Regions from separate parts of the Homo sapiens genome. Here region 1 is linked to region 2. The links come from fine-mapping of genetic effects on gene expression. A gene starts in region 2. The other region holds a variant in brackets. All regions are shown on one strand. Distances are from middle to middle. Region 1 holds the start of LINC00940 (long intergenic non-protein coding RNA 940). Region 2 holds the start of LRTM2 (leucine rich repeat transmembrane protein 2).

Region 1 (5,367 bases), 120 kb after region 2:
GCTCACGGGCGTACTGAGTCTCATCTGCACGGAGCCCCTCACGTGTGAGGCATCATTTTATTATTTTTTATTATTGGCATTATCAATTTCCTTATCTCATAAAGAGAGGAACAGACTCCCGAGGGGGAGACGGCCACATCCTGCTCTGTGAGTGGCCATACAGAAGCTAGAGCCCAGGTCCCTGGGCCCCGCCTCCCCTCCGCAGGACACTGCCTCTATGCACCTGGTCACAGTCAGACAGGGCAGGGTGCCCTGCTGGCAGCCAGGCCCGGGCAGTGGGGAGCAGAGGGCAGAATCCCTCACGGAGTCTCTGGTCTCTGGAAGGGCTGGACGGTGCTTTGCCAGCCGCATCTCTCGCCAGTCTGTCTTTCGAGTTCCAGAACACCGAATAGCTTGTATTCTACCCACTTCCCACCCAATCACACACACACAACCCCATACACACACGCACACATGTACACAGACACTATTGCTGCTTCTTGCCTTCCTGTCCTGGCTCATGCCATCTCTTTTGCCTTAAACTCCTGCTGCCCCCTTATTTTGTCAACTCTTACCCACCCTTTGAGAACCAGGAGAGGCATCACCTCTTCCTGGAAGCCTTCCCTGGCCTCCCATTTGCACGTTAAGTGATGGCCCTCACAACGTCATCTACAGTAACTCTCCTTCCCACTGGTCTGTGAGATCCTCGGGGCCTGGGCAGGGTCTTACTCATCCCTGTGTCTCCAGCGTGGCATCCGATGGGTGGCGGCCATCCACACACAGGCTGGGCGCTGCACCGCCGGGCAGAGCTCCTTGTCCTTTCAGGACCCGTTATCTCAAGATTTCCTATCAAGCCACAGTTTCCCAGCCTCTGTGCATGCTGGGAAACCTCTGTCTATGCAGGAGGGAATAAAATCTAAGGAACAAGTGACCCTGGAGAAGTGCTATGGGCAGAAAATATAACAACACCAAAAATAATTTTGGACCGACTTATGACGGAGCCGTAAGTGGCGATAAGAAAAGCTGGGACACACCTGACCCGTGAGGCTGATGGGGGAAGGGCCAGTTTTGCCTGGCACATCCCACAGGGCTGCCATCCAACGTAGAAAACGCCAGTGTGGAGCATGCGCGGCTCTGGCCCAAAGCAACCATTGCAAGGTTCCTACGACTGACACCACAGAAAATCCTTTCCCCTTGATACTTATCTGGGTGGCGAAAGAGACAGGAGGTGGTGGGACTAGAACCCAGAGCTTTCTGAGTGCAGTATTCTCTACACCACATCACACAGGATGAGGGGCTCCTGACAGCCTAGATCTTGGGACTGCCGCCTTGGTCTTTTGAGCCCCTTCAATTGTGTAGGTACCAGGTGTGCCTGACAGGTGGAGGGAGGAGCTGGGGCACTCACAGAACTGTGTGTGTGCACGGCTGGGTGGGCTGCAGCTCCCGTCCTGGGCCAGGAGAACGTCGTCTTGGAGACGGGGCCCTGCTTGTCCCCCAGCATCTCTAATGCTGAGAACTCCCACCCGTCCCTCACATGTCTGTTTCAGTGTCTGCCGACCTCAGCAGGACGCTTTACCTTGGCTTCTCCCTAGACATTTGGCGCCTTTCATCTTGGCCCTCAGACTTTTAGAGAAATTCTTAGACTTTGGCTTATGACTGTCTGCTCTCCCACCCTTTCTCTTGCCCACTTAGTACATATTTTTACCTCCTTCCTGCCGTGCCCTTAGTTAACTTGTCCGAGGCTTGGATTTCTTTCTTCTGCCTCCCTCAGAAGCCTGGGCTGCACAGCTTGGGCTGCTAGCTGGCGCGGGGCCACGCGCCTGTCTGTACTGCCCAGCCGCCGGGAGTGCCAGTCACCCAGTGCTCTGCTCTCCTCCCCCCCAACAGTCTGCACACGCAGTTTTTATTTGTGTACTTTTCTCAAGGCTCTAAGCTGTTGGCAGGCATTACTCATGACTCAATTTAGTGAACATCTATCTAGATACCCAAGGTTGAGTTAAATATACCAAGTATTTGTAACCACCTCCCTCACTCCTCTAATTGTAAGAGGGAGTGGGGTGCAGAGCATCTGAGATCTGAAAGCCAAGTGTTCAGCAAAATGCTGGGCAGGCTCCCCAGCCTGCGCGGCCACGCACCTTTACACCACGCCGCGCTGCCCCAGCCTGCGTGCTGCAAACGACGCATTTGACCTCCAAGATGACTCCACGTTCCAAAGCCTGCAAGGCAGGCTGATTTCTTGGAGAAGGGAGGAGGCGGCACATGTCTGAATAGAGCAGGCCCTGTTAGAAAACAGAAGGCTTCATTGCTAATAGGAGCGAGCGACCAATCTGTCCACATTAATCCAGAGACATGGTTCCTAAAACTGCA[C/G]CCAACACTCCGCCCCTCCCCGCCCCACCTGCATCTACACTGACAAATGGAAACTGAGCAAAGCCTGGTGCTCAGAGCACTCGTTTCTAATGTGCCCCTCCCATCCTTGGCACCACATACTCCAGGGAAGTAGGCCTTAACAAGGGTGGACTGTTGGTCTCTCTTTATACCTGAGAGAACCAAAGAGGGCTGTTACTCAATAGTTGAGATTTCTTGAGGTGGAAACGCACTTTCAGATTTTCACCCTTCTCATTCAAGAGGAAGAAAGCAGGTCTTTCTGTCCTTTCTGGGTCTGAAAAGGGCAGGCAGGCTGCTGGTGTCTGAGGGAAGAACAAACTTACCAAATGCAACAGATCTGTGATTTCCAGGGCAATCCTTCAGCATGCGATATTTTGTTGTTGTTGTTGTTTTGTTTTTGTTTGTTGGCCCAGGGCTTACCTCTTAAAAGGGCTGGCAGAAGCCAGTACAAGGGGGCTATGTGTATCAGTAGGGCTGGGTATGCACACCAGACAGTTCTAGAAGATGCTAACAAAGGTTTCTCTCACTCTGCAATTATCACCATGTCTGGCCTTCTGAAGGGGGAGACCGAGCAGAGTGTTTCTTTTCAGAAGATCCAGGAAGTACAAATCCTATCAAATAGCACTGCCTTCTCCCGCCTTGCAATTAAGGTGGTGCTTTACCCATAACGGCAGGGGCAAGAACAATACCGACATGGTATGTTACAAGTAATATACTGCTGGGTATGTGGACCTCTTAAAGAGCTGTGGCACTTCCTTCATAAGGAAGGGAGAAGTGTTACTGTTTTCATTCCATTGATAAGGAAATGAGGGGGAGAACGCGGTAAAGCAAGGCGGCCACAGATCCCTAAGTGCCAATGCCAGGCTGAACACTCAGGTCCTGGTAGATGGCAAACAAAGGCCGGCCCAGCAGCTGCGGGCCTCTCCCAACAACTGGAGCATGGCCCCCGCACCACAGTCATGGCACAGAGGGGCTGTCTGCCATATGTTGCTCCCATTTAATCCTCATATGGACCTTGTGAGGGTCTTTCATTTTCTAAGTGAGAAAACAACATCCCAAAGATGTGTTTGTTCAGGAGTTGAAGGCGGATCTGTGTGACTCCATAGCTGGGTGCTCTTCCCCACACCGGACGGCTCTGGCTTCTGGAACGTCTACCAGGCTGAAGCCCACTGCACTGGATAAGGCTGCCTCTACGAACAGAAATCTCAGGGCTGCACCTGAGATTCAATCAGGTGAAAACTGCTGCCTGGGAGCCAGTGGCACCTAAGGAGTGGCGTCCATGATGTTCTCAGAATTTGGGCTGAGTGGGAAGAAGAAAAGCCCATTTATTTATGAAATCTAGCTTTGGGTGCCTTAGATAACCCTTTTGATCTATTTCTTGGACTCACTAGAGAAAGTCCTTTTGTACAAAGACACTCTCATCTGCTTTGCTGTATAGAAGAAATAAGCACTCCATCACCAACTGCCCTTTGAAGGGTGACTTCGTCTTTGGTCTAAATGAATTGGGCCTGTCCCTTTCAAAATGATGTATTCCAGTAAAGGATGGAGAATTTATTATTTTTCAAAACAGATGACTGTGGTGTTGACCTAGAAAGGCCCGACTGAAGCCTGCAGGGCAGGTCTGACCATGCTGGGCTTGGGTTTGTTCCCCCGTCGCATCAGAACATGGGCACCTTCTCACATTAGGTACGGCAACTGATATTCTTTCTGTTTTATTTACTCGGTTCTGAAGCAAAAGAATAAATATTTCATGAAATTAGCCATTTGCTACTGCAAATACGTTAGGAACATTAAGTATGGAATTCATCTCTCCTTAGCTAGCGAAGCAACTCTAAACATGTAATTAAGATCAAAGATACATTGTTAAGGTTGCCAGCAGTTAATCAGATCATTGATTTTGCCCCATTTTTGTGCATGTATCGCTGAGGCAAGCACTACGATCACTGACTTTGAATCCAGCAGTTAATCAGATCATTGATTTTGTCCCATTTTTGTGCATGTATCGCTGAGGCAAGCACTATGATCACTGACTTTGAATAACAGATCCAAGTGTGTCTCTGTCCTCGCCCTGTTCTCCTTATAAGAATATTGAGATACCATATATGCAATTATTAATTTCAAGTGTTTTGTGAAAACTTTGCATGGTTTATCACTATGTTAGATGTTGTAGGAGATACCAACGAAACAAAAGAACTCACCCCTTCCTAAATGTTGGAGGGTAACACAGCAGACTCCTCGCCAAGGTCTGGCACATAACAGGGGTTCAGTAACAGTCAATCCCTTTTCCACCCACCCTTTCTCTTCACAAGAAAAAGCACCCTCCTGCGGGAGAGTAGGGGAGGTGGTGTTCTAACAATGCTTTCACTCGATGCTGTGGCTGAACAAAGGTCTAGAGCTTAAAGTCCAAGCCCAGGTCTCAGAAACGGTAGGGAAACCTGTTTTCCTCACGCTTCCATTTTATGAACTATAAAATGAGAATAAAACACCTGTCGGCTGTGCAGTAATCGAAGATCTTTTTATTATCCGAGAATAAGAAGTGCTATTGAAACGCAAAGCTTTATTTATTACAAATACTCAGCAGGGACGAATTCCCATAGATACTCTTAACAACTTGGCAGGGGCTCTTCTGACTCCTTCCAAGATTAAGCTCCTCATCTCTGCGAACATAAAACTCGATCTGCTACACAGCTTGCAGATCATGACGCCCTGAACATCACAGTGACAATCTCCTGTGCCCTCCGCCTCAGCGTGTTCTGCTAAGGGTGATATACTATCCATTCGGAAGCTTAGGCGGGCACATCCTGCTGCTTCATGGGCTGGGATGGATGAAGTGTTGCTGGAAATCTGGGCCATTTGTCAACTCCTAGAACATCTATCCTCTAGAAACTAGCTATAAATACCTTTAGAAATAACTTCCTTCAAAGGATTGGGTAAAACATGCCAACTGGGTTTTTACAAATGAAAGGTTTACTTTGTCTGGTAAAAGAAAACCGTCGTTACTTC
Region 2 (5,367 bases):
CCCCGGTCTCCCTCTGATGCCGAGCCGAAGCTGGACTGTACTGCTGCCATCTCGGCTCACTGCAACCTCCCTGCCTGATTCTCCTGCCTCAGCCTGCCAAGTGCCTGCGATTGCAGGCGTGCGCCGCCACGCCTGACTGGTTTTCATATTTTTTTGGTGGAGACGGGGTTTCGCTGTGTTGGCCGGGCTGGTCTCCAGCTCCTAACCGCGAGTGATCCGCCAGCCTCGGCCTCCCGAGGTGCCGGGATTGCAGACGGAGTCTGGTTCACTCAGTGCTCAATGGTGCCCAGGCTGGAGTGCAGTGGCGTGATCTCGGCTCGCTACAACCTCCACCTCCCAGCCGCCTGCCTTGGCCTCCCAAAGTGCCGAGATTGCAGCCTCTGCCCGGCCACCACCCCGTCTGGGAAGTGAGGAGCGTCTCCGCCTGGCCGCCCATCGTCTGGGATGTGAGGAGCCTCTCTGTCTGGCTGCCCAGTCTGGGAAGTGAGGAGCGCCTCTGCCCGGCCGCCATCCCATCTAGGAAGTGAGGAGCGTCTCTGCCCGGCCGCCCATCGTCTGAGATGTGGGGAGCGCCTCTGCCCCACCGCCCCGTCTGGGATGTGAGGAGCGTCTCTTCCCGGCCGCGACCCCGTCTGGGAAGTGAGGAGCCCCTCCGCCCGGCAGCCGCCCCGTCTGAGAAGTGAGGAGCGTCTCCGCCCGGCCGCCCCTACTGGGAAGTGAGGAGCCCCTCTGCCCGGCCACCACCCAGTCTGGGAGGTGTGCCCAACAGCTCATTGAGAACGGGCCAGGATGACAATGGTGGCTTTGTGGAATAGAAAGGCGGGAAAGGTGGGGAAAAGATTGAGAAATCGGATGGTTGCCGTGTCTGTGTAGAAAGAAGTAGACATGGGAGACTTTTCATTTTGTTCTGCACTAAGAAAAATTCCTCTGTCTTGGGATCCTGTTGATCTGTGACCTTACTCCCAACCCTGTGCTCACTGAAACATGTGCTGTGTCCACTCAGGGTTAAATGGATTAAGGGCGGTGCAAGATGTGCTTTGTTAAACAGATGCTTGAAGGCAGCATGCTCGTTAAAAGTCATCACCACTCCCTAATCTCAAGTACCCAGGGACACAAACACTGCGGAAGGCCGCAGGGTCCTCTGCCTAGGAAAACCAGAGACCTTTGTTCACTTGTTTATCTGCTGACCTTCCCTCCACTATTGTCCTATGACCCTGCCAAATCCCCCTCTGCGAGAAACACCCAAGAATGATCAATAAAAAATAAATAAATAAATTAAAAAAAAAAAAAAAGAGTCATCACCACTCCCTAATCTCAAGTACCCAGGGACACAAACACTGCGGAAGGCGGCAGGGCCCTCTGCCTAGGAAAACCAGAGACCTTTGTTCACATGTTTATCTGCTGACCTTCCCTCCACTATTGTCCTATGACCCTGCCAAATCCCCCTCTCCGAGAAACACCCAAGAATGATCAATAAATACTAAAAAAATTAAAAAAAAAAAAAAAAGGAAAGGAGATGAAGCAGACCACAGAAAGCTCCTGCACAACATGAGGGTGGCCCAAAGAGAATGCCAGAGATCGGAGGAGGAGCAGGGCCAGTCCTGTGGTGTTCCGGGGAAACGTCACCTTGCAGGGGGCGTTTAAGGAAGGGGGAAGCCACCCATGGGCAGGAGAGCATTTCAGGCCCAGGGAAGAACACGCTTTCATGGAGATGGAGAAGCAGGAAGTATGTTTATGGGGAGGTGGGAGCCTCTTTTGCTTGACAGTGGGATGTGTGGGAGGCACCAGCATGAGAGGTCAGAGGCGGGACTCCCCAGAGGTAAAAGACACTGCAGCTCAAGCCTTGTGCTGCCCGGGGACCCGGCAGAACGGACAGAAGGGAGTGAGCAGGAGCATCCTTCTAGGGGCATCCTGAGTCCAGGGGGTTCTTCTACACCCACCCCAGTCCTGGCTGTGAACCCCTCCAGCAAAGCAGGCAAAATGGAAGAGGGACATAGGACACGGTGATATATCGCTAGCACGGTGCTTCATCTGTCTACAGGCAGTGGACGCAAAGGAAGGGGGATTTAGGGTTCGTGCTCCAGGCTGGTGGGGCCCTGGCTCCCCTCTAGCTTGGTCCCTGACTCACTTGGCCTTCAGATCAGCCACTTCCCATCTCTTAGGATATCAATTTTTCTGACTTGCTTTGTCCTGATTGGTTAAGAAAGAGGCCTCCAAGTTCTTGAATGACAGTCTCTTCCCTTCGCATGCCTGACCCATCACAGATAAGAGCAAGGAGCCCTGAGAAGCCAAGCTCGTCCCTGGCACTGAGAACGGTCTGCAGGCTGCTGCTGCAGGCTGCCCTGTGCCCAAACTCCCAGCCTGCCAACTCTGGCATTCTGCTTCCCTAAGTAGTCCTGGCGTCGGGTGGTCAGACCCTGAGGCTCAGTGACCTCTGCATGACCATGTGATCCCTGGCTTTGTGGGGGCTCAGGGCCCTTTCCTGTAGGGTCATCTGGCACATGGACATGCCTGTGTACCCTTCTTTCGTATGACCGAGAGAAGGGTTCGGTTTTTCCTTCTCTCAGGCAGGATGGGAGACTCTGCCTCGCATGTCTCTAAAACAGGAGAAAGACCAGCTTCCCAGGGGGGCCTCCATCGGAACAGAAGTCAGCCGCTTGCTCTGTGTCTGCGCCTGTCCCTCTTTCCCCAGATGGAGGGGAAGAGAGGAGAGAGGCACAGAAGACAGGTGCAGCCGGGGGGGTGAGGGAGAGCCTGGAGGCGCAGGATGGAAGATGGAGGTGGTGGTGAAACCGCTTTCCTCCTCCCTGTGGTCGGCAGCGATTCATCCACAGGCGCCTTTTTCCACTGAAATGTGAGCGTGGCCAGGGTGAGCGCTGCCCTCGCGGCCGGCCGTGGTGCCTCTGGTGTGCGCCTGTGTGTGCTGCTGCCGCTGTCATCACAGATGCACCCCAGCTGTCACTCCCCGCTCCACTCTGGCTCGCTGCTCGCGCACACGCGTGCGCTCTCCTCCCTCGCCCCTTTCTTCCCTCTCTCCTCTCTCTCTCTCCCTCCATCCCTCTCTTTCCTTCTCAGTTTGTGACTGACCCAGCAGCCCCGTCCCCCGTCTGCCACAAGCAGTCCACCTCCTGGTGCTGTGTGCTGCGTGCCAGCCGCTGCTCCCGCTGAGTGGAGACTCTGGCACCAGTGCCCACTGCGCTCTGCCTGCCGGTGGTGTCTGGATTTCTATAGGAATCCCAGGAGGGTCTTACTGGAGGGTTGAGAGCCACCTGATTGAAGGCGTTTGCAGTCAGAGTAAAGACGGGTGAGTACCGAGTGGCTGGTAGGAAGGAATGGAGGGTTGGTGGGGACAGGGGGTGGTCGGGGCATGGGAAGTGGGCACCGGCCATCTCTGCCCTGCAGGAATAGCTGCAGTTGCTTCCTACCTGCAGGCAATTGCTGGGGCCGAAGAAGCTGCTCGGGCTCAGGCACCTGAGCATCCCAAAGGTGCACGACACTGGGAACTCTGAGCCCACAGTGCTGGGGACAAGAGCTGTGGATTCTGCTGGGAAGTGGGGAGGAGGGCAGCGCTGGCGCCAGATGACAGTCCCGGGTGGCATAGAAACCGGTCCCTGCAGCATGGGAGAAGCAGCCAAGAGCCTTGTGCTGTCGTTGTGCCCGGCTCTGCACAGACAGCCCCAAGAAACTCGGGGGTCATGGGAAGCGGTTGGGATGGCAGTCAGGTGCTGGGGACAGGGCCAGGTCAGAGGAAGGCTTGGGGTGGAGGGTGGCAGGGAGGAGGTCCTGGATGTCAGAGGCATGGGCACAGACCCAGGTCCTGGGCCTCCCTATAGCTTGCCTGCAGGTGGCTGTCCTTGGACAAGGGTGTGGAGGAACCCTCCCCCAGATGAGCATGGGCCCACTCAGCTGTGCATGAAGCCTCCCTGGTGAGGGTGAGGCTGGGAGTGGGCAGGAGAGAGAAGTATCGCAGCCCTTCCCTGCTAGCCCAAGGGCAAGACAGGAGAACCAGGCCCGCGAGAACCTGCTGGGGTGTCCCGCAGCTGTGCACCCAGCCGTCCATCTGCAAATGGGTCAGGGAGCCTTAGTGGGGGCTGGACACTGAGCTTGGGTGGGGGGTACACAGCGGGGCCAGGCCTGCCTGGCTTCTTGACCCACACAGGGGGCATGGACACCCTGAGTAGAGCGGGACAGTTGCTCTCAATCCCCCAGACCCATTTGGACAGTGCTGGAGAGAGGAGCAGCCTGACCAGGAGTCGGAAGTTCACATTCCTGCACCTCCCTGCAGGTCTGGGGCTGGGTTCCAGTTGGCGGCCCTGTCTCTCCCCCACCCCCAAGCTGTCCACATTTCTGGGGGGTGTTGGCACCCGGCTGTCAGGGCTACTTGGGCAGTGTCTCTTTGTGACTCAGATGACACCCCTGCAGCTTAGATAACTGCCTCAGGTGGGGGCGGGGAGGGAGCCGAGCACGTGGAGCTGAGGCGGGGGAAGTCCAGCTGGTAGGGAAACCCGACAGCAGCTTCCGAGCTGCCAAGAAGAGCCCAGCTTTTCCCACCCCCACCTCCCCACCGGCAGAAAGAAAGTCTCAGCACTGCCAAAAGAGGGAGACCAGGAAAGCCAGGCCCGCGGGGAGGGGTAAGGAGAGAGGCTGCTTAAGCAGCCGATCTGGTGTCTTTGGGGTTTGACAGAAGCTTGTCTGGGCCCACGAGGAGCAAACTCTGCTCCCGTTTCCCAGGCACCAGAGCCCAGGGGCCGCCTCTGGGCTGCTATGGCCTCAGTGGGCAGTGTAGGAAGGAGGAGGGGATGGCATGTATGTGATGGTTGGGGGTGTCTGGGAGTTCTGGGGGTGGGCAGAGGAGAAAGGAGCCAGCATAGAGGCTGTCTGCCCCTCTGGTCTTCCTCCTTTTTCCCCCAGCCAAGCCTCCTGTGCCCTGCCTGGGAATACCACCCTGAGCCCAGCCCCAGGGACACCACCCTGAGCCCGGCCCCAGGGCCCAGTGGACACCTTAGCCTCCTTCATGTCAGGGACCAGCTCCCATGAGGGGCCACTCAGGAGGCTTCTCTGTTCTGCTTCCCAGAGGGTCTGTTTGAGATTGAGAATATTTGACAAGGAAACGGGGGTGCAGGAGGCTGGGGGTGAGGATGGGGCATGTGTTTTAAAATGAACCAGGAGGGTATATGGCTGTTCCAAGTACAAATATAGAGATTTTTAAAACCTGGTTCCTTGCTGCCTGGGCAGTGTGTGTGATGGGGGTGATGGGCAGCTGTCCTAGAGGGCCTGGGTGCCCAGACAGGCAGCGGTAGGCGGAGCCCAGCCTAGACGGCTGTGGCAGCCTCCCCTGCGTCCTGGCCACATGGAATCTCGGGCCGT

Evidence for each region.
Region 1: its variant is fine-mapped to the expression of LRTM2 in cerebellum (GTEx, PIP above 0.99).

Annotation. Positions count from the first base shown.
Region 1 is chr12:1,934,770-1,940,136 of GRCh38, forward strand. LINC00940 (long intergenic non-protein coding RNA 940) reads right to left here and starts at 1,807. Exons shown (of 2, transcript NR_036546.1): 1 at 1,685-1,807. The variant C/G (reference allele first, on the strand shown) is at 2,347.
Region 2 is chr12:1,817,511-1,822,877 of GRCh38, forward strand. LRTM2 (leucine rich repeat transmembrane protein 2) reads left to right here and starts at 3,055. Exons shown (of 5, transcript NM_001039029.3): 1 at 3,055-3,304. The region is part of intron 26 of CACNA2D4 (calcium voltage-gated channel auxiliary subunit alpha2delta 4); the gene reads right to left. It overlaps LOC105369601 (a long non-coding RNA gene), which reads left to right. Exons shown (of 5, transcript XR_931546.3): 5 at 1-1,296. RefSeq lists an enhancer at 2,625-3,371.